Linked DNA regions of Homo sapiens. The protein of the gene in region 3 interacts with the protein of the main gene of each other region in a biochemical or structural test. Each region holds a gene or a part of one and is shown on either strand. Other genes may lie near its edges. The genes, in order: NTRK1, SHC3 and ARHGAP32.

Region 1 (4,486 bases), on a different chromosome or scaffold from region 3:
GAGGGAGCCCATGCAGGGTGTGGAGCAGGAGGCGAGGCCAGACCCAAGGTTGAGTGTGGAGGAGGATAGGCACAGAGGAGCCCAAGAAGGCCAGGGAGGAGCCTATCTCTTTGCTCCCAGACATGGCATAGGCTCAGTGCTGGTCTTGGGGACACAGGCTAGGGAGATACCAGCATCTGGGGCCCAGGCTGTGGGAGACGAGGCTCTAACTGCTGGATGGAACACTGGGGGAATCAATGGAGGGAATCATTAATGCTCAGAGATGAGTCTGGAAGACTTCCCCTAGGAGGGACCATCTGTTCCTTCTCCCCTCCAGGCCTTTGTACTTCCAGTTCCCTCTGCCTGGGGCATTGGGCCTCCCTCCCTCCATAGAAAGATGGAGACAGACACACAAACTCTACCCCTCCCTGCCTCAGCTCCCTTCGAATGGCTTCAGGACTTGAGTCTCAATTTAGGTGTCCCTTCCTCTAGGAAGCCTTCCCTGGCTTTTTCCATTCCCACCCGTGGTGCCTGCCAGGTGCCCCTCACACTGCACTGCCATGACCTGCTTATCTGCATCATACTCTGCACTGTAGCCCCAGTGCTTGGCACACTGGAAATGTTTAACAAATGCCTCAACTAAACAAATGAGGAGAAGATTGGCTAGTAGGAAAGGGCATTTTTGGCAAAGTGATCAGTTCAGGCAAAGGTTCAGGAGAAGGAACATTGGGGAATATGGATGAGTGACTAGGACTGACCCGAGTGCTCGCTCTGGGGAGAAGGCGGGCATCCTGGACACCTTCGAAAGGAAGGAAGACCCCGTAGGAATGGCTGGACACTGAGGGCAGAGGGGAGAGAGACAGGACAATCAAGGACTCCCTGGTTTCAGGGTCTGCCTGGGTGGGAAGGGTCCCTTCCCTGAGGCAGGGGCAGGCTTGGGGAAAGACACCGAGCTCCAATTGGCAAGGGCTGAGTCTGACATGCCTATGGCAAGGGATGTAGGGGCCAGTGGGCATCTGGAGTTCAAGGAGCTGCCAGAGAGGAAGGCATGGATGTGGGAACCATGGGCTGTCTCTGGTGGGAGCCCTGGAGGTGGGCACACCTGTTCCGCTCCTCCATCCCACCCCTCTGGACAGCTGCCTCTACTGTTCTCTCAATCCTCCACTTCCAGGTCCCCAGTCTCCTCTCCCATCACACGCGGCTGCTGGGGATCGCCTTCCTCAGGCTCCTGGGAGTTCTATCCTCCCAGCCTATCCCCTCTCCTTTTCTTGTTCACAGATCCCATGGACCTGATGCCAAGCTGCTGGCTGGTGGGGAGGATGTGGCTCCAGGCCCCCTGGGTCTGGGGCAGCTGCTGGCCGTGGCTAGCCAGGTCGCTGCGGGGATGGTGTACCTGGCGGGTCTGCATTTTGTGCACCGGGACCTGGCCACACGCAACTGTCTAGTGGGCCAGGGACTGGTGGTCAAGATTGGTGATTTTGGCATGAGCAGGGATATCTACAGCACCGACTATTACCGTGTAAGGGTCCTTTGTCCCCAACGCCTTCCCCTGCATCCAAACTGTAGACACCCTGGATCCCAAGACCACTGAGAGCCTGCCCTTGCTAGGATGGCTGCATGGGTCTGAGATTCACTGGCTCTGGTTTTCAACCTACCTCCTCGGCTCCTGGTGGAGGGGGCTCTGTCTCCTTCGCTATCCCAGATGGAAACAGCACCTTCGGTTTTTGCCTCTTAGACCTGAGAGCCACCACTGTTTGTTTATTTATTTATTTAATTTATTTTTTTGAGACGGCGTCTCACTCTGTTGCTAGGCTGGAGTGCAGTGGCACGATCTCGGCTCACTGCAACCTCTGACTCCCTGGTTCAAGCGATTCTCCTGCTTCAGCCTCCCGAGTAGCTGGGATTACAGGCCACACGCCATCACGCCCAACTAATTTTTGTATTTTTAGTAGAGATGGGGTTTCACCATGTTGGCCAGGATGGTCTCGATCTCCTGACCTCGTGATTGCCCACCTCGGCCTCCCAAAGTGCTGGGATTACAGGCGTGAACCACCGAGCTTGTGTATTTATTTTTAATGATGGGGCTGGGGTAGGCTGTGCCTTGACGGGCTGTCCCAGGCGCCCCTGGAATTGATGCAGTGTCCGCCCGTGGCAGGTGGGAGGCCGCACCATGCTGCCCATTCGCTGGATGCCGCCCGAGAGCATCCTGTACCGTAAGTTCACCACCGAGAGCGACGTGTGGAGCTTCGGCGTGGTGCTCTGGGAGATCTTCACCTACGGCAAGCAGCCCTGGTACCAGCTCTCCAACACGGAGGTCAGCCCCGGCCCATGGTCACCCCTTGCTGGCCTCCCCGTCCCATGCCCCTTCAGGTTCCTTTTTCAGGGAACTCGGTTCCCCTTCTGCCCCTCTGCCACAGCCTGTTGGGGGGCCCTTTCCAGCGCCGTGCCCACACTGTGTCCCCTCCACTGTGGCCCTTTTCTTCTCTTCCTCCCTTATTCTTGCCTTCACCTACTGTCCTAAGCCCAGGCCCAGTTGGCCCCTGGGGGAACCTCAAAGTGCTTTGTACAAGGAGCCCAGACCCCCATCCCTAGCTGCATTTTATAGACCTAAGCAGGAATTATCAGAGTGGAAGGGACCAGCACGGGAAGAGGAACCCAGCACAAGAAGGCCCAACACTGCAGCAGGACGGCTGGAGGTTAGACTGTCAGAAGGACAGTCCTACCCCCTCCCCCTGCCCTCCTAGCTGGCCACAGCCAGAGCAGGCCCCAGGTGTTCTGTCTCCCAGAGCAGCTGCCCCCACCCCCTGCTTGGCTCGCAGCTGTCAGTTTCCATTTCTCCTCCTAATGCAGTCTGCTCCCCGGAGGCTGGTGGGGTGGGGGAGAGGGTTATAGATTTTAATTTTCTCAAGCACTGAGAGAAGAAATGGAATTAGTGCCGCCCATAACCCAAGTCCTCTAATAGGGAGGGGGGAAGAAGGGGAAAAGAGGCTCCAGGCCCCTTCTCCAATCACTCCCTGCCACCCTTTCTCCTTTGGATTCCTTGGCTGCTTTAGCAGTTCTTCCTAGAGTCTAACTTTGATCTTTCTTGCTGCAGTTTCTTTTTGGGAGAGCTAGTCAGTCCCACAGAGTGGTATCCCTAGAAGGGAGAAGTAAGGATTGCCCTCTTCTTTAAAATGAAAGCCAGCTATTTTTCACGCCCTTTAACTGCAGTTCTGCTCTATTTTCTTTTCTCTCTCTGGAGCTGAGAGTCAGAGGGCCCTTCTCCTCCTCCTTTCAGCCCCCAACACTAAGCTGATGGATTGATAAATACCTCAGCCCCTCGCCTTCCTCAACCCACCTGGCAAGTCTTCTTAGGATCTGATCCCAGTTTTCTGGAAGCAATCCTACCCCAGCCCAAGCTTCCCATAGTCGAGCCTTAATCCTTCTCACTTCTCAGTGTCAGAGCAGAAATGAATCCTGGGGTTGACTGTGTCCATTCGGGTTATTAGCAGCTAAGAAGCCCAGACGAGTAGTGTGAGCTGCCTTGGGAGCCTCAGTGAGGGCACTGGGACTGGCCTCACTCTCTTGCCCCCAGCCTAGTGGGCTTTCTCCTCTGTCTCTCCGGTGGCCCCAGGCAATCGACTGCATCACGCAGGGACGTGAGTTGGAGCGGCCACGTGCCTGCCCACCAGAGGTCTACGCCATCATGCGGGGCTGCTGGCAGCGGGAGCCCCAGCAACGCCACAGCATCAAGGATGTGCACGCCCGGCTGCAAGCCCTGGCCCAGGCACCTCCTGTCTACCTGGATGTCCTGGGCTAGGGGGCCGGCCCAGGGGCTGGGAGTGGTTAGCCGGAATACTGGGGCCTGCCCTCAGCATCCCCCATAGCTCCCAGCAGCCCCAGGGTGATCTCAAAGTATCTAATTCACCCTCAGCATGTGGGAAGGGACAGGTGGGGGCTGGGAGTAGAGGATGTTCCTGCTTCTCTAGGCAAGGTCCCGTCATAGCAATTATATTTATTATCCCTTGGCTGTGTCTCTTGCCAGTTATTGGGATGACGTCGTTCCAGGAGGGAGGCATTGGGATTCAGGTAGGGGGACAGCTCTCTGGGATCTTCCCCCACTCAGGTTCCCCTCAGCTGCCTACCCCTACTCCATGGACCTGTCACTCTCACCTTTGACTATAGTTTGGATCCCATTCCCATGGTCACCTGGCTCACCTGCTGGTAAGGCAGCCTCTGGTCAAACTTCCTAGACCTTGAGAGCCTAACTGTCAATCTTTGTAGTTCATGTTCAGGAAGGCTGGGCTATAGTGGAAGGGGTGGAAGTTAGATGTACTGGTAGGATGGGAGCGTTGATGGGGTGTCTTCCTTGTATTGGTGTGTCCGGGACAGAGCAAGCACGCAGCAGCAGATGAGAGAGAAACATGTGTGTGTGTGTGTGGGGTGATGGGGGGCAGGAAAGGGACGGAGCTGGACTAAGGATTGATGGAGGCAGGACCCCTTGTTCCTGCCCCTCTGTTACTCTTCT
Region 2 (8,192 bases), on a different chromosome or scaffold from region 3:
CAGGGCAGGGAAGCTGAACAATGAACGCAGCGGGAATGGCATTAGGCCTTGCGTTCCAGGGCCTCAGGCTTCCAGGGCACAGTCGCTGCTGCTGTGCTGGGCCACCCTGGTCCTGCAGAGTGCACCTGGGCCCTGCTGTCCCTCCAATGGGCACCCCCAACACTTAACCCCAAACTCTATGTCTTCTGGGAGTACAAGGTGGGGGCCAGCAGTCCTAAAACGGCCCCTCTGCCCTTACCGAGTGGCCCTAGAGACCCCCACCCACCTCCCCTAACCCCACGAATGAATCAGCTGTGCTTCAAATGACATCTCTGTCCCACGGAGGCCGGCTGGGCCTCTCATGGGGGTGCTCATTGTGGTTTAAGTCAGCTTTGATTCTTGACCTCCAAGGCTGCCTCTGAGTAGCTAACCGGAGAATCGGGTGGGGAGGTGAAAAACACCGCAGTCAAATGACTCAATCTTTAATCCTGTGCTTAAGACACCACTGTTGCTGTTTTTTATATTTGAAGCACCCAAAGACTGGGCGTCCGCTCAGCCTTGATGAGCGAGCAGCTATTTTGTCAGGCCATCTATGATGTTGGGATAATGGACAAAGGCCTGATTGGGCCATATATGGCCTTCTTTAGGGCCTCCTGGAGGTGGAGGAAGTTGTGGGTAATTTCTAATAAAGACGGGAAATGACAAGCCGTGTGTGTAGGTAAAGTCCTAACTTAAAAGGAAGGACAGGCCTAGGGAAGGGTGGACCCTAAAGGGCCCATGTGCCAGGGGAACAGTGGACATGTGTGTCCAGCCCAACCTCCATGTCTGGTGCTGGGATTCTGAAGGTGGCCCCCAGCTCCCAAAATAAAGCTTTCCTTTTCAGTAGCGTCCGACACTTGGGTAGCTTCTTTCTATAAGCAATGCTTGAAGATGGACGTCTGGGTCCTCATTTCCTCCAAACTGGCTGCTACCTGAAGGCAGTCACACATTTCTTTTCTGTTGGGCTGAGCTGGGCAGAAGCCTCGGACTATAGGCCTTTCCAGGGCAGAGGCAATGCGGGCCACGAGTAGATACCTCCATCCAGCCTCCACCCTGGCACACCCAGAACGGCGTGGACTCAGGCGGGTTGCTGGATTTCTCTGAGCCTTGGCGTGCTCTACACTGCAGGGCTATACATGTTCCCAGCTTGAGGGCGTGCTGGGGATTGACAAATATATGAAACATATAAGCGCAATGATTTTCTAAAATTGTGCATTCCCAGCGTGCCCATTGGTTCTCTCTCGCTGGCCCAACTTTGTGTGCTGTCCATAAATCCCTTTCTGTGGACGGTGACAGTAGGATTGGGAGTGAGTGGGAAGATTGTGGAAAGATTGCAAAGAGGTCATTGCAGGACTCAGACAGACCTTGCAGTGGGTTTCAGAGTAATACTCAGGTTCTCCCATGGAACTTTCAAAGCTGGCTCTAAGAAAGATGAAGAGGACAAACCCACTCCTGGACATAGTGCCAACCTAGAACTGTCAGCTCCACACAGGATCACAGGGAAGGGAGCTTGGTAAGACAGCCCAGTAGGGGGCCCTGCTTTTCAGAAGAGGAAACTGGAGCCATGCAAGGGCCTGGGGATCAACTTAGAAAAGAGCACAGGACTCACAGTCCTGGGCCTGCACGTAAAGCTAGCCCCCTGCCCCACGGAAATGGCAAGCAGTGCTTCCCTCCAGGGGTTCTACATCTGTGCTCCATCTCAAAATGCATAAAAGCCTGAGTCATTCAGATGGGAGAGACAGTGTTTCTACTTCCTCTTAGTTGGGGTTCCTCCAGAAGGAGACCCTGAGAGAGGACTTGAGGTTATGTAGTTTATTTGAGTGAAGATCCCGGAAGTAGGGAGAGAAGGAAGCTGACGGGGAAGGCGTGCATTATCAAGTAAGTTACCGTCATGTGCACAACTGGAGCTGAATCCCACCGGGGAACCCCGAGAGACAGAGCTGACACCCCAGAGTTCACCCAGCAAGGCGGGGAGACAGCTGGGGTATTTATTCACCAAGTCTATCACTTATGAAAGGCTGTTTCTGGAAACAATTTCTGACTGGCCCTGCACACACCTGAGCATACTTCCTAAGCCGGGGATGTCCCTGAGCTGAGACAGGCGTTCGTGACAAGCAGACTTCGAGTGGAAGGCAGGCATCAGAACCACCCTGTGAGCTGGTTCAGACAAAGATTGCAGGCCCTTCCACCCCCCTGGCCCCGCCAAGTTCCTGACTCCCTAGGTCTGGAGTGGGGCCCGGGAATTTGCATTTCAAAAAATCTCGAGGTGATGCTGGTGCAGCTGCTCTGAAGTCTTGACTTTGAGAACCACTCACTAGTGAGAGTTTCCAGCCCTTACCTGTCTCTTATTGATGGCTTTCCCCCCTCTAATTTATAATTATGCTTTCACACCACTTCATGTCACAGATCCCAGGGTCCGTGCTGTGAATTTAAAAGTGGAGAATTAATAAGCATTTATAACTCCATGCAACCATTGCTGGCAGCTTAAATGCCATCTGCCAGCCATAATTTATTTATAATGGGGTTTATACATATTTATAAGTTTGCAAGCAACAAATGCACAGTTTTAAAACTGGCACATTTTATAGCAGCCAGAAAAATTGCAACTTTATACCAGGACTTGTGAATGTGAATTGCATATGTATATACATATACGCATATACTTACATTGATTAAAAACGGATCTGCATCTCTGTACACACGCAGATTGGCTCTGTGTTGTGCACCTTGGGACTCCTCCCTGGGCTTTGGTTTTACAGCTAAGTAGGAAGTCAAACAAACGTGAAGAATTTGGGAATTGGCAGGCTGTGGCATCAGCCATGGAGGATGGTCCTGGATGCTGTAGGATGTGAGATCCAGCACAAAGAGAACAAGAACAGGACATGAGGACCACAGGGATTGGGGGAACCCACTGTGGGAAATGACAGAGAAGCCAGTGGGGGAAGACAAAGAAAGAAGAAGGTGGAGGCAGAATAAAGGTGAGAAGAAGGGAAGGGGAGGATAAAACAAGTCCAGATTTAGATCTTCCTTCATGCAGCCATGCATAGCTGTCTGAGGCCAGCAGGGAAGGAGGAGAAAGGGAAGGTGTGGTGGAGGAGGCTGTGCTCGTGATGTCATGCTTTCGTGTATTCCCAGGTGCAGCTGCATATACTTGGCACAGTTTCTTGGGATTTCTAGCCAGTTTCTTGGCCTCATTTGTGCATTAGTTAATATGTGGCTGGCCCTGTACTGGGATGGTGGGATAGAGAAGTGAATGTATGAGGCCTCTGCCTGAGTTTATAACCTAGAAAGAAATAAAGACACACACACACAAAGGTGTTGGAGTGTGACAAGCCTTAAGGTACCCGTGTGTCCAAGTAAAGTAGAACCAGCAAGGGTGGAGTGCCCAGGTCAGTCTGGGGACTCTGGAGGCTTCGCACTGCAGGCGTCAGATACTGAGTGTTAGTGGCACGGAGAAGAGTGTGGAAGGCTCAGGATGGGGGTGGACAGCCTGGAGTTGTCACTCTCAGTAGAGATGCTAGAAGGGGCGGGAGGTGATCCCAGCCTCCCTTCTTTCCTCCTCCTGGCTGTCACAGATGCTCTGAATTGATGAATCCTTCAGGCCAAAAACACACAGGCTCCTTCCCTAGGTCTGGAAAAATGGTTCTCGCTGAAAAAGCACCAGGAATAAAATCTCATACAATTTTAGGTGTCTATTTTGTTGTCTCACCTTGAAATACTGCAGACAGAAAAACATGCACATGGGGAGCTGTGGTCCTGAGCTTTGAGGTAATGAATTCCCACTCATGTGATCATTTTTACCATAACCAAAGTTTCTAACCATCAAAATCAAGTGACAATTAAAACAGGCATTAATGGATAAATCCGTCTTTAAATATTAATGGGGTTAATTTTGTTAACAGCTATGTGTTGGTTGCAAGTGGAATGTTCTCTGTTCATTTGACTTTTGAATATAACTTGTTCCAGAATATTGTAAAATTAAGTATGTGAATGTTTCTTTGTATTCAGAATTAAACATTTGGTGTTAAAATCCCAGGATTAGGAGACAACTCCATGTAAATTTAATGTGTAATAATAAGATAATAACTTTTTAAAAAGCATTTGGATGGCAAATTATACATACTGACAAATGAATATTATCTGAAAGTTGTTTTGTTTCCATTAACTTTTGTGAAACAAAAAGAATTACTGTAACAGTCTATGTCTTGGCGTATTGCCAATTCACCACTTTCTACTTTGTGCTGGAACAGAACTGGCTTTTTTGACATCCCTGAGGAGTGGAAATGCAAAACGAATTTCAAGTTCTCTAATCTTTGTTCTATGACAAATGAAAAAACCTAAGTTATCTGGTGTTTTGGAGATTTGAGAATACAGCAGGTGAAGAGAATTAGCTTAAATTCCCTCCTCCCTTTTGATAAATCCACAGGGATTCCTTCACTCTGTCAGGAAATGGTGTGGTTTCCAAGCATTAGCCCTTCATGATCTGTCTGGTGCATTTCTGTGCTCCTGGGATCGCCAAGTGCAGGCACGGCATCGCATCCCCAGGTGTCATCCTGTGACCCAGGAGGGGAAGATGACACACCCAATTTAGGTAATGCTGCACTTCTTGTTATAATTGGTTATTGGAAAATGTGCCTTTATTATCAGAACAGTGGTGTGCGCATTTCTGATTATGGAGCTAACTTTTGGATATCTGACTTAGATACTAAAAACATTTGGGTGTTGCAGTTTTGCACTTGTAGATACAACTTAAAAGCATGAAACTGGTGATTTAATTAGATGTTTTCTATAAAATGCACCTTGTTACATTTCTGTGAAAGGGTCTTACCAGCGTGGAATAACTGGCTCAAGGGTTGAGAGAAACAACCATTTTCTAAACAGTTAATTGTTTAAAGGACTATACATGTAAGTCTGCAGGCAATAAAGGCTGTTGTGAAAAGTATCTTTCATTTGGATGATGGATTTTGTATTGCCTCACAAAAGAGAGGAGGGGAGCTTGAAACTTTTCTCTAAGAAGTAGGTATTTTCAGTGATTCCCTGGGGGACTGCTTAAAAAACAGTCACAACAAAGCCTCGTCCCATTCATCAAGGCTGCGGAATGAAAATGCATCCGGGCAGATGTACTCCTAGAGAACTCACCTTACCTTCTAGCTCTGGGGCGGGCAGCTGCGTCCTCACTTGCGTTGGGACATTTCATCATGAGTTGTAACAAGCATCGCTACCAGAACAGTTATGCCGAGCACTGGCCTCCTCTTTACATAGCAAGTGGGACAGAGAGGCTAAAATGGACCGTTTGTGTGGGAGAAAGCTAGTGTGCAAAGGTTGGTTCTGACCTATTCTCTCCTGCTGCATAAACAACAGCAAATGGGGCAGGACAAGAGGTCCCATGTCTTTGAGCTGCACTTTTATTACCATGGGTCTTAGAAATTTCTCCCTATCAAAAGACCATTCTCAAAATAGTATGACCTACCAAAATTGGTGTAAATAGCACCCAAGGCACAGACGCTTCATTAAAATACCACCTATGATAGTGGGTAAGAAGAAAGGGGAAAGGTTATTTGGGGTTCTGAATGTGGTTTAATTCCTGAAATGCTAAGAAACACAGGTGGGTAGCAAGCCTGCAACAACAGTGCGCACCCCTGCAGTGGGGAGGGCACCCGGTGAAAACGATAAAACAATCCCATCACATGGACTACGAAGAGTGGGTTTCCACAAAGGCTTTTGGTTTTATTATTATTATTTTTAACAAACATACATTGGAAATAGTAAAGGTTTCTAATTGAAAAGAGACCTAATGCATAGTTTCTCTGCAGCATAGAAGACCACCTGTTTCCAAACTTCAAGGTTAGGGCTTTGAAACATTCCCTGGTAAATTATCTCCAGCTGGCTAGCTAGTTAGGCATATTGGTGCACATTGGTATCAAAGGTGATTATTTTTTGCATTTAGCAAATGAGCGCTATTACTTTTTTGATGTATTTTTAATTCAGATTGCTCAAAAGTCTTGTTATTTCAAGGGAGCCTTATGTCATACCACAAATATTGATACCTCCTAGTGGAAATGGTGGCTGTGGGCTCCCTAGTAGAGTTAATGGATGAAGGCTGAGATACTTAGATACTGCGGACATCAGGGTTATGGAGCAAAGTGTTATGAACAATAGCTACAGAGAGCTCCAAGTCTCCCAAAGCAACTCATAACTATAACACAGATAAAGTTCCAAAGTCATTTCATCACCTATGTGAAAATGCAATACTGAATGTTTTGGCTCTCTGATGCATTTTGTTGTTGTTTTATTTATTATTATTATTATTTTTTGAGACAGAGGGTCGCTCTGTCACCCAGGCTGGAGTGCAGCGGTGCGATCTTGGCTCACTGCAATCTCCGCCTCCCGGGTTTGAGCAACTCTCCAGCCTCAGCCTCCCGAGTAGCTGGGACTACAGGCACGTGCTATCGCATCCAGCTAATTTTTGTATTTTTAGTAGAAACAGGATTTCACTATGTTGGCCAGGCTGGTCACAAACTCCTGACCTCAGGTGATCCACCCGCCTCAGCCTCCCAAAGTGCTGGGATTACAGGTGTGAGCCACTGCGCCCAGCCTGTTGTTGTTTTCTTAATCCAGTACTTTAACGTTTTACTGTCCTAGAAATGCCCTGTGTTTTCTCATGCTATTTCATAAGAGAATATGCTACTTTTCATTGATGTCAAGAAGGCAACAGAAATGCTCCTGGGGAAGATCTCCTTACAAATAGGTTTCATCTCATCAGTAACAAAAATTAGAAAAGCCTTTGGTCAGCCCATGGAGGTGAGTTACTCTGAACCTATGAAAATGTCTCTTTATAAGAGCAAATTGCATCAGATGACAAAACAGGAATCAATTTCTCTTAGAAAAAGTTAGTAATGTGTTAAGACTACTCTTTTAGGTTTTATTCAGGCAAATGCTCACTGAACCTAAAATACTTTAGGGGACTCTGATGGGAGGTTCCTTTGAACGCTGGTTGGTTTTGTCCTTGTTTTTAAAGAGAACTCAACACAGCAACTGTGTGCTTATGAAAGTTCTACAAACGTGTTCACTTTTCTTTCCATCTATTTGTATAATACGTACAATCCTTGGGGAAGAGCATGTACAAAAATGTCTTCTAAGTAATCCCTTTACAAGGTAAACAGACTGCTACGGGTTCAACTTATGTTGAAAAGTAAAATTACAGCATCACATAGGTATTATTACATTACTCTGAAGAATGCATAAACTGCCAGATCACATTTTCTAACCTGAAAATTAAACTTCTTTCACTGATAGTCACGATCAGTGCCAGCTTTCAGGATGCTGTGAAACTGCCGGTGGCCACAGCTACTTAGCTGTGATGCCACGGGGGATTACTGACTTGCTGCTTTTCTAATATAGAAACAAACTCAACATAGAATCAAAGTGCTGTCTTGTGAATCTCTGCTCATTTCCTGGACAGCTTCCATTTCCTGAAGCAGACCCCTGCCCCACTGGCGTGGGAAGGTGAGCCAGGCCAGCCGTCTGCTTCTGCTTCTCCTTCATAGGCTCTTTCTTTGGCCCATCTGGGGGCACAAGCTCCTGGGTGATCTTGGCTGGCTCTTCTGTAATTTGCAGAAACCTGAAAACCATCACATAATTGGGCTTTGGAATACGATTAAAATTACGCAGGGACAAATGACTGAAAGGACAGGACACAGGGCTGGTGTGGGTCAGACCCACACATCTGGGGCCAGCCTTGGACAAGCCTTTTTGGGGAATTTGAACTTTTAAAACTTGGTTAACATGAGAATCATGTCAGTCTAAGGAGACCAGGGATGGCATGTCCACCTAGTTCAAAACAATGTCCTTGTACTGGGGGTTCAGTCTGAATCCACTTGTATAACCTGTTACCTGTGTGTTGTATGGAGATTCTATGTAGGTACCACATGGCAAACACCTGCAACACAAATTCTGTGTAACATAGAGATGTACGAATATACAAGCATCCATTCTACGCACAGGAAATGTAGTGTAAAATCATCAAAACACCATTCAGAGGCACACGGAGAGGGTCACACAGCATTGTGTGGCCCACGACCTTCCCTCTCTGTGAACAACAGGGAGGGTGTCTAGGATGCAGCAGAAGGCAGTGGATGATGTCAGCAGCTTAGTACATCTGAAAGACTCTGGAG
Region 3 (12,644 bases):
AGCTGGCACTACAGGCATGCACCACCACACCCAGCTAATTGTTTTTACACTTTTTGTAGAGATGGGGTTTCACTGTGTTGCCCAGGCTGGTCTTGAACTCTCGAGTTCAAGTGATCTGCCTGCCTCAGCCTCCCAGACTGCTGAGATTACAGGCAATAGCCATCACACCCAGCCCGTTGTCTTTAGTAGTTTTACTCTGGGCACTATTAGGTAGGACGCTTTGAGACATGCTAGGTGATAGATAATACCTCTGTGTGTGCATGCGCACAGACACACACACACACACACACACACACACACACACGGCACTTACCTGGTTTAACTTACATTTAAGGTGATCATGTCTTGTTTTCAAAAGTACTCTTCCCTATTGTTTAATCACAATATATGTGGAATTGTTTAAGTAAAGCAAATTTTAAGTAGTCAAGATAAACCAGAATATGAGGATTTGAATTAGGCTCTTTATTTCAAAAGCATATCCTTTGCTCAAATATTCTCCCCTTGATGCCTATTGGAATTTTTCTTGTAACTGTTTTAAGGCTTTTGAGACATTACTGTTTTCTTTCATAGAAGTGTTGAAATCCTTTCCTGTTAGTATGTCTGCTGCAAGTAGAATGGCATAACTTCAAAATATTATTTGTTCCAGAAACTAGCTTTGGTGGAAGATTCACTTCTAATAGTAATATTTCAACCTGTTAAGCAGGAAAAAAAAGTTCTCTTGGGTTTGTATGGTCCCTTTCTTCATTTTGCTATTGCAAACTTAGGAATTAATTAGCAGGCTTTTATGTTCTATACTGCTGCATCATGTTTCTTTCTGTTAATATGTTGTATTTTATTTCCAGAACACTGGAGTTCCTGATGAGACACTTGTCTCTTCTAGCTGACTATTGTTCCATCACAAATATGCATGCAAAAAATCTAGCAATTGTTTGGGCTCCAAACCTGTTAAGGTAATTTGCATTTCACTTATTAATTTTAGTAGAACTAATCCTAAATAAAAGGCTGATTCATCAGTGTTCTTTAAGGAAACTTTTAAAAGATTAAACAAATCTGTTCTTTTTATTTGCATCTCCCTAAAACAGGCAACTGGGCCTTAGCTAAGGGACAGTAAAAGTATGATTTCTTCCTCTGTTTGTCTGAGATTTACACGTTTAAAAAAAGAGGCCCTTGACGACTGCTATCTTTACAACTCTGTGATGAAAATGTTTACCTCACAGATCAAAACAGATAGAATCTGCCTGCTTCAGTGGAACAGCAGCTTTCATGGAAGTGAGGATTCAGTCTGTGGTTGTTGAGTTCATCCTGAATCACGTTGATGTGCTGTTCAGCGGCAGAATCAGCATGGCCATGCAAGAGGGGGCAGGTACGGCTCCGATGGCCCTTCCTACCAGGAGGGTGTGTCTCAGCTTCCAGAGGAGTAGCAAACCATGCATTTCTTATTGCAACAACAAAAACGTGTCACTGGTATAAGGCAGCTAATAATGTATGGCTGCTTACCAAAATGCACAATTTGACAGTTATTTTGTGTGTATATAGTGAATACTACATATGAGACCTATTGTGATCTAAGTTCATGACACATTAAAAAACTTGTCGTTCATTATTGATGTGTATTAAAGTATAAAGTGGAACAGAAGAAGAAAAATTGCTTCCAAAACTAAAAATATCTGAGTGATTGATCACCTTTCCTCATATCTTTTAAGAAAGGAAAACAGTTATTAAAGAGTTTTATATGTGTGTATGTGTGCCACTGGTGTATCCCCTTCAGTTTTTTATTTAATATAAAGCTTTTCTCATATCTTTTAAGAAAGGAAAACAGTTATTAAAGGGTTTTATATGTATGTATGTGTGCCACTGGTATGTCCCCTTCAGTTTTTCATTTAATATAAAGCACTATGGTTTTTGCTATTTAACATACTTGAAGAAAATTTGAAACAACAGATAGGTAGATAGATGGAGAGATAGATACTAACAAATTGAATACACTCACGTAGTTGACTCTCTTCATCAGCTTCCTTTTCTTTTTGAAGCTTCTCTATCAAGGCCCAAGTCCCTCCTGGTATCCTCTCCATCCACCAAACTGCTGACATTGGAAGAGGCCCAGGCACGAACACAAGCTCAGGTCAATTCTCCAATTGTGACGGAAAATAAATATATCGAAGTAGGAGAAGGACCTGCTGCACTTCAGGGGAAATTTCATACCATAATTGAGTTCCCACTTGAAAGGTAAAATTTGTTAAATCCTATTTTGGGATATGATTTTCATAGCTATGTCCTATTATTTTCTTTTAGTTTGCTTTTAATTTTGTATTTTAGTATTACTCTATTGAATTCTAGGCTAGTCCCAGAGAAACCTGTTTATTCGAATATGGATGATACTTACCGCTTCATGGGGAATGATGCAAATGATTCTTGCTTTACAATGTCATGTAATTTTATAAAAGAAGAACATCAGTGGTATAGGGAAAATTGTTTGGAAAAATAAGGATATACTGTCACTATATGGGTTGATTTTGCTCTCTGAACTATGTTGTTTATAAAGTTGTTTAGAAATAAGCTGTGTTGGAAGAGTTTGTTCAGAAAGTCAGGAATGGACAGTGACTTGTTTGACATTGGTTTCACATTAAGGTTAGAAGAGATTAATAGTGTGGTCTCCCAGCCAACAGCATCAGCATCACCTGGTGATAATTGCTAGAAGTGCACATTGTGCAGTCGTCCAGTCACACCCCAGACCCGCTGAATCAGAAACCCTGGGCGTGGGACCCAGCAACTGGTCATTCATCTAACTTTCCAGGTGATTCTGATGTCTGCTAGGACTTGAGAACCACTGCAGCAGTTCACTCTTTCAATGTCCCTTCCAGCTCTGAAATTCTATTACTCTAAAGAAATGATAATAACATGGTTTCTGTATCTTCTTTACTAGGTTATAGTAGGAAGACTAATGTATGTAAAAGTTATTTTTGATGTCTCTGCTACTCCTTTGGCTATTACACATGAATGTAAGGATTTTGATTCTCTGGATTGGGTAGTACTAATATAACTTTAGAATTTGTTCTTCCCGTATTTTAGTATACTCCTCTAACTTCCTTTCACTTCCTGTGACTAAAAACATTCTATCAGCAAAAAGTTGGAACATACTCTTACTTTGTCATCCTGAGTTTGTCTTTAGCATCTTGATTTTATATTCTAGTTCCATAATTTACTCAAAGATTTATTTATGGAGTAGTAGTTAAGAGAGTAGATACTGGGATGTAGATTGGCCTGGGTTCCAATTCTGACTCCATCATTTAATAGTTTTATAATGTTAAAGAAGTTATTTGAACTTCTTAGTGTCATAATTTCCTTGGCTGCAAAATGAGAATAATAGTACTTACCTCATGTGGTTGTATCTGATTTAAAGGAGATATTACATATAAGGCAGGTAGCACAGTGCCTGGCATTCAGTATATGTTTGTTATTATTCTTAATCCTTGTCTTCTTTGTTTGCCTTTATTCTCTACTCACACCTAAAATCATTTTCTTTAACTCTGTGTTATTTTTGGACACTTAATATTTCCTATTCCCAGATACGTCTTATTTTCACTTATTTTTCAGTTTGTGAGGTTGGATCCAAATATGAAGATATATATAAAAATGATCTTTGTGAAAATATTTACTAGTACTAAAATCTGCATGTTTACTATCCATTTTCTGCTTTGGCTGCACTGTGTAGAGTGTGCTGTCTGGAAGGTGGATGTTTGCTTACTGTTTCACTTATGCTTCTCCAGCCTGTTTGGTTCTTTCTGTCATGTGTTCATTTCTTTTCTGTAAGAAAAGACAGACCCATGGCTATCTTAATGTTGATTATTTTTTCTCTTTCATAGAAAGAGGCCTCAAAATAAGATGAAAAAGTCTCCTGTGGGTAGCTGGCGTTCCTTTTTCAACTTGGGGAAATCATCATCTGTTTCTAAACGAAAGCTGCAGCGGAATGAGAGTGAGCCTTCAGAGATGAAAGCCATGGCTCTGAAAGGTGAGTGCCTGGGAGATTCTCACTTCTGCTGCTGTCATGATGGTCTTCGGTTGTTCTGGGCACGTTCTTCACATATTGTTATGATCTGCTTCCATAACGTGTTCACAGTTGTGTCACACATACAGAGTGTCTTCTCTCACCGATTCTTTATTCCTAAATTGAAGAGTAACATAAATTATATATAAATATGTAGAAGTATGCAATTTCTTTTCTTAAGGAAACTATATAGATTATATATAGTGTAAATGTGATTAAATTCACATATACCTTGTATATTGTTGTAAATAAATACTGCTATGGTATCTAAATTTATTGATCTGTATTTTTACAGATCTAAAAAATTTCAAAACTGTTTCAACATAACTTTCAAGTTTATAACTCTTTTAACTAAAGAAGGTATTTTTTATTAGATGTCTCATTAATAGAGTATCTTATTAGATCAAATAAATCTATTACTGTCGAAAAAGTACTCTTTTAAAAATAGTTTAAAAGCCATATTCTATTGATATTAACAACTTCTGAATCTAGGAAGGATAGTAGTACTTCTTAGATAATGTTAGAAGTATAATGTTCAATTCATTTAATTCGTCATTCAGTTTGCAATCATGTAGAGCATGTGCTAGCTATTTTGATAGCAGGCTCTGCAGATAGAAAATTAGGGTAGTACCTCTGCCTTCCAAGTCAAATTGGGAAGTCATACGTGTGAGAAAGTAAATTTTAGTGCAGAATCATAGTTATTGAAATAGTGGTTTAGGCTAGGTACAGTGGCTTACACCTGTAATCCCAACACTTTGGGAGGCCAAGTCAGGAAGATCGCTTGAAGCCAGGAGTTCAAGACCAGCCTGGGCAACAAAGTGAGGCCCTGCATCTACAAAATAATAATAATAATAATAATAATAATAATAATAATAATAATAAATTGCAAATAAGCGAGGCTTGGTGGCACATACCTCTAGGCTTAGCTACTCCGGAGGCTGAAGCAGGAGGATTACTTGAGCCCAGGAGGTTGAGGCTGCAGTGAGCTATGGTTGTGCCACTGCACTCCAGCCTGGATGACAAAGCAAGACATAGTCTCTTAAAAAATAAAAGAAATAGTTACATGAGACAGTTGTGGTAGGAATTGTCAACTCTTGTAGAGGAGGGACTAGTGGTTAGGAAATAACAACCTTTGATATGGGTTTTCAAGGAGAAGTAGGGATTCACCTAACTGACAGGAGACTAAGAATGGTATTTCAGGAGATGGGAGCAGAGTGAAAAGAAGCCAGCTGAGGGCTGAATGCTGGAGAGAAGCAATGTTTAAAGGTGGGAAAGGAAGAATTGTCATGAGAGGAGAGTAAGAAGAAATGATTACAAAGGTAGGCAGAGAAAAAAAGAGATGCATGCTATCCTCAGCAGGGGAGGAGGGGGTTAAAAAGAAAGTGTTCGTAGTGCTGCCAAGGGGTTAAAGAGGATGAAGATATTTAGCGAATAAGATTCACATATGTACGTAAAGTTACCTGTGTTAGTATCCCAGAGTTCCCATAACAAATTACCACAAGTCAAGTGGTAAAAAACAACAGAATTTTTTTCCCTCATGGTTCTAGAAGCTCAAAGTCTGAAGTCAAGGTACCAGCAGGGCTGTGCTTGCTCCAGAGGCTCCAGGGAAAAATCCTTCCTTGCCTTTCCAAGCTCCTGGTGGCTGCTGGCATTCCTTGATGTGTGGCAGCATCCCTCCAATCTTTGCCTCCATCTCCACATGGCCATCTCTGTGTTTTCTTACGAGGACACCAGTCATTGGGTGTAGGGCCCACTCTAAATCCAGTATGATGTCATTCAAGATATCATATTGGTCTTTAGGAAATGTAAAAGAAAGAAGCATCTTAGTTAATCTCTCTGCTCAAATTCATAATCCTTTAGAAAAGAGATTTTTCACACGGGAAACCATTTGAGAACAGTATAACACATTATATAATAGAGTACTAAATTGCTGTCAAAATGTGCAGTATAACACATTATGTAATAGAGTACTAAATTGCTGTCAAAATGTACAGCTAATCACTCTCAAAAGTTTAAATGTATCAAGAAAAACACCGATCCCATTAACCACATATGTAACAAATAAGAAATCTTCACACTATGTGTTTTTTATTCTTCAGGTGGCAGGGCAGAAGGAACCCTCCGTTCAGCTAAAAGTGAGGAGTCTCTTACATCTCTCCATGCAGTTGATGGTAAGACTAAAAGCATCAGTCATTTTATTCTATAATATATTGCATAAAGGAATACTGCAATTGAGTATATTTTTATATATCTGTGCTTAATAAATAGGCTATTAACTCATTTCCTAGGAATACTAGTGTCTATTTAGTATTATTCAGATTAAAATTCATTGATGCTTTCACATGGAAGCAGTCTTTAATCTTTTCATTTTTGGCATGACTGCTATTCAGTTTACATAAAAGTAGCCAAAATATTTCAAGTTAACTATTTATATTTATTAATATCTAGTGAAAACTTGTGTTATTACTGTTTCCTTTAGATTTTACAATGGGAGCATAAGAGTTTTCCAAGATTTTCAATTAAACTAGTCAAGATAACCTACAAAACAATGCAGCAAGCTAGGTGGATACTAGTGTTAAGCAGAAGATATTTGTAAGGAATTAATTTTATGGGTGATCAATACATTTGTGAATATATATATATATATATATATATGTTAGACAGAGTCTCGCTTTGTTGCCCAGTTTGGAGTACAGTGGCGCAATCTTGGATCACTGCAACCTCTAACTCCCGGTTTAAGTGATTATCTTGCCTCAGCCTCCCAAATAGCTGGGACTACAGGCATGCGCCACCATGCCCGGGAGCATAATTTTATAAAGTGTATAATTAAGCAGTTTTTATATTTTTAGTAGATACGGGGTTTTGCCACTTAGGCCAGGCTAGTCTCGAACTCCTGACCTCAGGTGATCTGCCCACCTCAGCTTCCCAAAGTGCTGGGATCACAGGCATGAACCGCTGTGACCGGCCAATATATTTATATTTATTAAGATAGTTTCTGCCTCTTTAAATTACTTTTTAACTATGGCAATTAAAATAATCCTAATAGAATAGAGAGTTTCTTTTTTACCAGTTGGATATTTAGCAACATCGTAAAATTATGTAATACTCTCTGCCACTCTTGAAGACTGCTTGGGAAACTTAAAACCTATTCTTAAAGAAAAAAATGAAGTTCTTGTTTAGTATCTGAAAGGAATTTTTTACTAAATATATGTAAATACTTTATGGGATTATGAAGATTTTTTAATTGAGAAGTTCAATTTATTTAGAAATTTGAATATTGTAAGGATGTTTCCCCACAAAAAAAACATCCATTTTGCTATTATAGATTCAAAATGCCACTCAAAGTGATTAATTCCACCTCATAAGTCATATGAGGCCAGTGATAAAATAAGACACAAAGAAATGAAAAACTTGCCCAAAGTCACACCAAGAATCAGTGTTGGATTAGTAATAGAATCCAAGCATTCTGAGTTCTTTTCCTCTCCAGACCATGAAATACTGCATTCGCCCTCTGATTCTATCACATGTTTGCTATTTAGCATTTGGTTTTGGAGTTCTGTTATCTCAAGTGTAAATGATCTGTGTGCACTGAAAGAATTTTCAGAAAGAAAATGAGAAGTAACACTTCCTTCACCTAGATAGTAAGTTACTGCTGTGCTGAGTAGGTGACTTACCACAGCATTCTGTATCTACGATGTTCTTACTTTGACACTGTTATTCATTTTTTCCAGGTGATTCTAAGCTCTTCCGACCCAGAAGACCCAGATCTTCCAGTGATGCACTGTCTGCCTCTTTTAATGGAGAAATGCTGGGGAACCGCTGTAACTCCTATGATAATCTGCCTCATGACAATGAGAGTGAGGAGGAAGGAGGGCTGCTTCATATCCCAGCCCTTATGTCTCCTCATTCAGCTGAGGATGTTGACTTGAGCCCACCAGACATTGGAGTAGCCAGCCTGGATTTTGATCCAATGTCATTTCAATGTAGTCCTCCTAAGGCCGAATCAGAATGTCTGGAGAGTGGTGCTTCCTTTTTAGATTCACCAGGATACTCCAAGGATAAACCAAGTGCCAATAAAAAGGATGCAGAAACAGGTAGTAGCCAATGTCAGACTCCAGGAAGCACAGCAAGCTCTGAACCTGTCTCTCCTCTTCAGGAGAAACTGAGTCCATTCTTTACCCTGGACTTGAGCCCAACTGAAGATAAATCATCTAAGCCATCCTCCTTTACTGAAAAGGTCGTCTATGCTTTCTCTCCGAAGATAGGACGGAAATTAAGCAAATCACCTTCTATGAGCATATCTGAGCCAATTTCAGTGACCCTACCACCACGGGTGTCAGAAGTCATTGGTACAGTCTCAAATACCACAGCTCAGAATGCATCATCTTCAACCTGGGACAAATGCGTTGAAGAAAGGGATGCCACAAATAGATCCCCCACCCAGATAGTAAAGATGAAAACAAATGAGACAGTTGCCCAAGAAGCATATGAATCTGAAGTCCAGCCCCTGGACCAGGTGGCTGCTGAAGAAGTAGAATTGCCAGGGAAAGAGGATCAGTCTGTCTCAAGCAGTCAGAGTAAGGCTGTAGCTTCTGGACAGACTCAGACAGGTACCGTTTGTTTTCCTCCATTCTTTCTTTAAGTTAAGAGGGATCTTCAATCCTGTGTGCCATCTGTGCCTTTTAAGAGAGAAATTTGTCCACAGCTAGCCTTTAATCAAAGAGAATGCTTTTCTGGGTGGTGCTGATGGCTCAGAGCCCTAAATTAAAAGCAGTCCAACAAAACTCCCCAAAAGGGCCAATGGTCCTGCTTCAAATCTTCACAAAAGTCCCCTTATCTCTTTGGACGGTGAGAATTCGTGGATAATTTTTGCACAACTGCGTAGCTCTTGATTCTGTTTTTCTCTTCTAATAAAATATCTTTATTGTAGCCTTCCAAGTTAACAAGCCAGCTACACCATCAAATGTAAAAACTGTTCATAATAACAGTCTACAAGCACTTGAAGCTTGTTTTCTAAGCAATCTTTTCTGAGCCAGGTGAGGGACATGCTTTTTTTCCCCCCCATCTCTGTAACAATTCAAGAAGAGATTGCAGTCTTTATACACTGTTTGTTTTAGTTTTCCTTCTGAACCAGATGTGTTTTCAACAGCATTTGCATGTGGGATAGAAGATCATGGATTGCCATTTTGAAATATGGAAGGCACCTATTTTTTAATGATCACATGGGGAGTGTTTGGCTTTCCATTTAGGATAACGTAAGCTACCTTTTCACTCTCATTTTTTTTCCCAATTTCCCACTAGGAGCAGTTACCCATGACCCCCCTCAGGATTCCGTTCCTGTCAGTTCAGTCTCTCTTATCCCACCACCACCGCCTCCGAAAAATGTTGCCCGAATGTTGGCGCTAGCATTAGCTGAGTCCGCACAGCAAGCCTCAACTCAGTCATTGAAGAGACCAGGGACCTCTCAGGCTGGGTATACAAATTATGGAGACATAGCGGTGGCTACAACTGAAGATAATCTGTCCAGTTCTTACTCTGCAGTTGCTCTAGATAAGGCCTATTTCCAAACCGATCGACCAGCAGAGCAGTTCCACCTCCAGAATAATGCACCAGGAAACTGTGACCATCCTCTACCAGAGACAACAGCTACTGGGGATCCTACCCATTCCAACACAACTGAATCTGGGGAGCAACATCACCAAGTAGACTTAACAGGGAATCAGCCACATCAAGCATATTTATCTGGGGACCCAGAAAAGGCCAGAATTACTTCAGTTCCCTTAGACTCAGAGAAGTCTGATGATCATGTAAGTTTCCCTGAAGACCAGTCTGGGAAGAACAGTATGCCAACTGTCTCCTTCTTGGATCAGGACCAGTCTCCACCCCGTTTCTACAGTGGAGATCAGCCTCCTTCTTATCTTGGTGCAAGTGTGGATAAACTCCATCACCCTTTAGAATTTGCAGACAAATCTCCCACACCTCCTAATTTACCTAGCGATAAAATCTACCCTCCTTCTGGGTCCCCCGAAGAGAATACCAGCACAGCCACCATGACTTACATGACAACTACTCCAGCAACAGCCCAAATGAGCACCAAGGAAGCCAGCTGGGATGTGGCTGAACAACCCACCACTGCTGATTTTGCTGCTGCCACACTTCAGCGCACGCACAGAACTAATCGTCCCCTTCCCCCTCCGCCTTCCCAGAGATCTGCAGAGCAGCCACCAGTTGTGGGGCAGGTACAAGCAGCAACCAATATAGGATTAAATAATTCCCACAAGGTAAGAAGGGGAAGATATCAGTGAGATGAAATATACTATTACCAAAGGTATGTCACTTTTCAGCAGGGTGTGTTGTTATCTTTGAGTCAGACACAACAATTACTTTTAAGCCCTGTGGCTGGTTTCCATGAGATAGTTCCCATTTGAGGTTGGAGTCTGCCATTACCTTGATGCTGGCTTTTCCCCAGGAAAGGAGTAGCTCCTAGATGACTATAGCTTAACTGTACCTGCTCCCTTTTCTTCCTAAAGTGTCTCGGTAGTTTATTCCAGTAACACAAAGAGATCAGGATCAAATGAGACAAAGTGGGCTTTACGGTTGTGGGTTGCTTTTTCTTATTTTTTTCCAACTCCATCACTGACTCATTGTGACTTTGGGCAAGTCATTTACCTACCCTCTGCCAATTATTCACAGTTACACAATGAAAATACTTCATTCTCAAAACATTCGTAAGACTGTCTGCCTTGCAGACTTTTTGGAAGTATAAGAGATTATAGTGCCTTGGGATTTTTTGTTACTTTCCTAGCATTCACCAGCAGTTTGTCCCATAGTCAGGTGCCTGTTTCAATGAGAGAATGTAGTATGCAGAATGCTAAGGTTTCTTCCTGAATTTCCTCATATTTTAAGAAAGTGCCACAGGTTGTTTTTCTTCTATATGGTCACCTTGAACTATTAATAGGACTTAAGATTTTAGACCTTAGTGGAGGATGCTGTGTTTACTGCTTCTCAAGGATAGCATGTTTTCAGTATGAGGATTATCTTTGGCCAGACTAAGGTGGAATCAAAGGTAGGAGAGAGGCAGTAGCTTCTGATTTGAATATTGCCTTTCCCTATGTTTGAAGCCCTAAAACTGCTAACTGTGTACAACTGTGAATTTCAAAAGTCTCCCCAGATGATAGAATTAACTCTTAATTTAACAAGATGTCCTTTGTGTTGAGACTGAGCTAGACTAATAGACCGGGTATGTATTTTTAAGCTCTACAGCATTACTTGACTAAACCTCTCTTTTGGTTTGTATATTAAAATTATGCCATAGGCAACCTCATCTCGCATTTAAAACCTCTCATAAATTAGAAAACTTTGAATGGTTCTCCAAAGATAATACTGGGTGTTGTACAAAATAGCAGCACAAGCCTTCTTTTCCTAGAAATGGGTACAGATTCATTGCAACCACATGGCTTGGGAAAGTTCAAGCTGCTACCCAACCAGCCTTAATTTGTGAGTTACAAATTTAATAGTACTTGATTCATAGAGGGAACAAAAAATAGACCCATAGTATTATCATCTTTCAATAGGTTCAAGGAGTAGTTCCAGTTCCAGAGAGGCCACCTGAACCTCGAGCCATGGATGACCCTGCGTCTGCCTTCATCAGTGACAGTGGTGCTGCTGCTGCTCAGTGTCCCATGGCTACAGCTGTCCAGCCAGGCCTGCCTGAGAAAGTGCGGGACGGTGCCCGGGTCCCGCTGCTGCACCTGCGCGCCGAGTCTGTCCCTGCGCATCCCTGTGGCTTTCCTGCACCACTGCCCCCCACCAGGATGATGGAGAGTAAGATGATTGCTGCCATACACTCCAGCAGTGCAGATGCCACCAGCAGTTCAAATTATCATTCCTTTGTCACTGCTTCATCCACCTCTGTGGACGATGCATTGCCTTTACCACTTCCTGTCCCACAACCTAAGCATGCTTCTCAGAAAACAGTTTACTCCTCCTTTGCTAGGCCCGATGTCACCACTGAACCCTTTGGTCCAGATAACTGTTTGCATTTCAATATGACTCCAAACTGCCAGTACCGTCCCCAGAGTGTACCTCCCCATCACAATAAATTGGAGCAGCACCAAGTGTATGGTGCCAGGTCAGAGCCACCAGCCTCCATGGGTCTTCGTTATAACACATATGTGGCCCCAGGAAGAAACGCATCTGGACACCACTCCAAGCCATGCAGCCGGGTCGAGTATGTGTCTTCTTTGAGCTCCTCTGTCAGGAATACCTGTTACCCCGAAGACATTCCACCGTACCCTACCATCCGGAGAGTGCAGTCTCTCCATGCTCCGCCGTCTTCCATGATTCGCTCTGTTCCCATTTCACGGACAGAAGTTCCCCCAGATGATGAGCCAGCCTACTGCCCAAGACCTCTGTACCAATATAAGCCATATCAGTCCTCCCAGGCCCGCTCAGATTATCATGTCACTCAGCTTCAGCCTTACTTTGAGAATGGCCGGGTCCACTACAGGTATAGCCCATATTCCAGTTCTTCTAGTTCCTATTACAGTCCAGATGGGGCCCTGTGTGATGTGGATGCCTATGGCACAGTCCAGTTGAG

The links.
Region 1: the proteins of ARHGAP32 (region 3) and NTRK1 form a complex in vitro, tested with the Homo sapiens proteins (one study listed by BioGRID).
Region 2: the proteins of ARHGAP32 (region 3) and SHC3 form a complex in vitro, tested with the Homo sapiens proteins (one study listed by BioGRID).

What each region holds. Positions count from the first base shown.
Region 1 is NC_000001.11:156,877,865-156,882,350, forward strand, and holds the end of NTRK1 (high affinity nerve growth factor receptor isoform 2 precursor), read left to right. Parts: intron 1-1,257; coding exon 1,258-1,498; intron 1,499-2,134; coding exon 2,135-2,293; intron 2,294-3,592; coding exon 3,593-3,778; 3' UTR 3,779-3,986; downstream 3,987-4,486. UniProt on the Homo sapiens protein: Receptor tyrosine kinase involved in the development and the maturation of the central and peripheral nervous systems through regulation of proliferation, differentiation and survival of sympathetic and nervous neurons.
Region 2 is NC_000009.12:89,002,539-89,010,730, reverse strand, and holds the end of SHC3 (SHC-transforming protein 3), read left to right. Parts: 3' UTR 1-2,553; coding exon of another isoform or gene 2,554-3,213; 3' UTR 3,214-4,960; downstream 4,961-8,192. Other genes in the region: uncharacterized protein LOC124902206, read right to left, coding at 2,554-3,213. UniProt on the Homo sapiens protein: Signaling adapter that couples activated growth factor receptors to signaling pathway in neurons. Involved in the signal transduction pathways of neurotrophin-activated Trk receptors in cortical neurons.
Region 3 is NC_000011.10:128,970,135-128,982,778, reverse strand, and holds part of ARHGAP32 (rho GTPase-activating protein 32), read left to right. Parts: intron 1-842; coding exon 843-950; intron 951-1,217; coding exon 1,218-1,363; intron 1,364-2,030; coding exon 2,031-2,226; intron 2,227-2,923; coding exon of another isoform or gene 2,924-2,930; exon of another isoform or gene 2,931-3,856; intron 3,857-3,863; coding exon 3,864-4,009; intron 4,010-6,144; coding exon 6,145-6,216; intron 6,217-7,776; coding exon 7,777-8,655; intron 8,656-9,346; coding exon 9,347-10,326; intron 10,327-11,619; coding exon 11,620-12,644. UniProt on the Homo sapiens protein: GTPase-activating protein (GAP) promoting GTP hydrolysis on RHOA, CDC42 and RAC1 small GTPases. May be involved in the differentiation of neuronal cells during the formation of neurite extensions.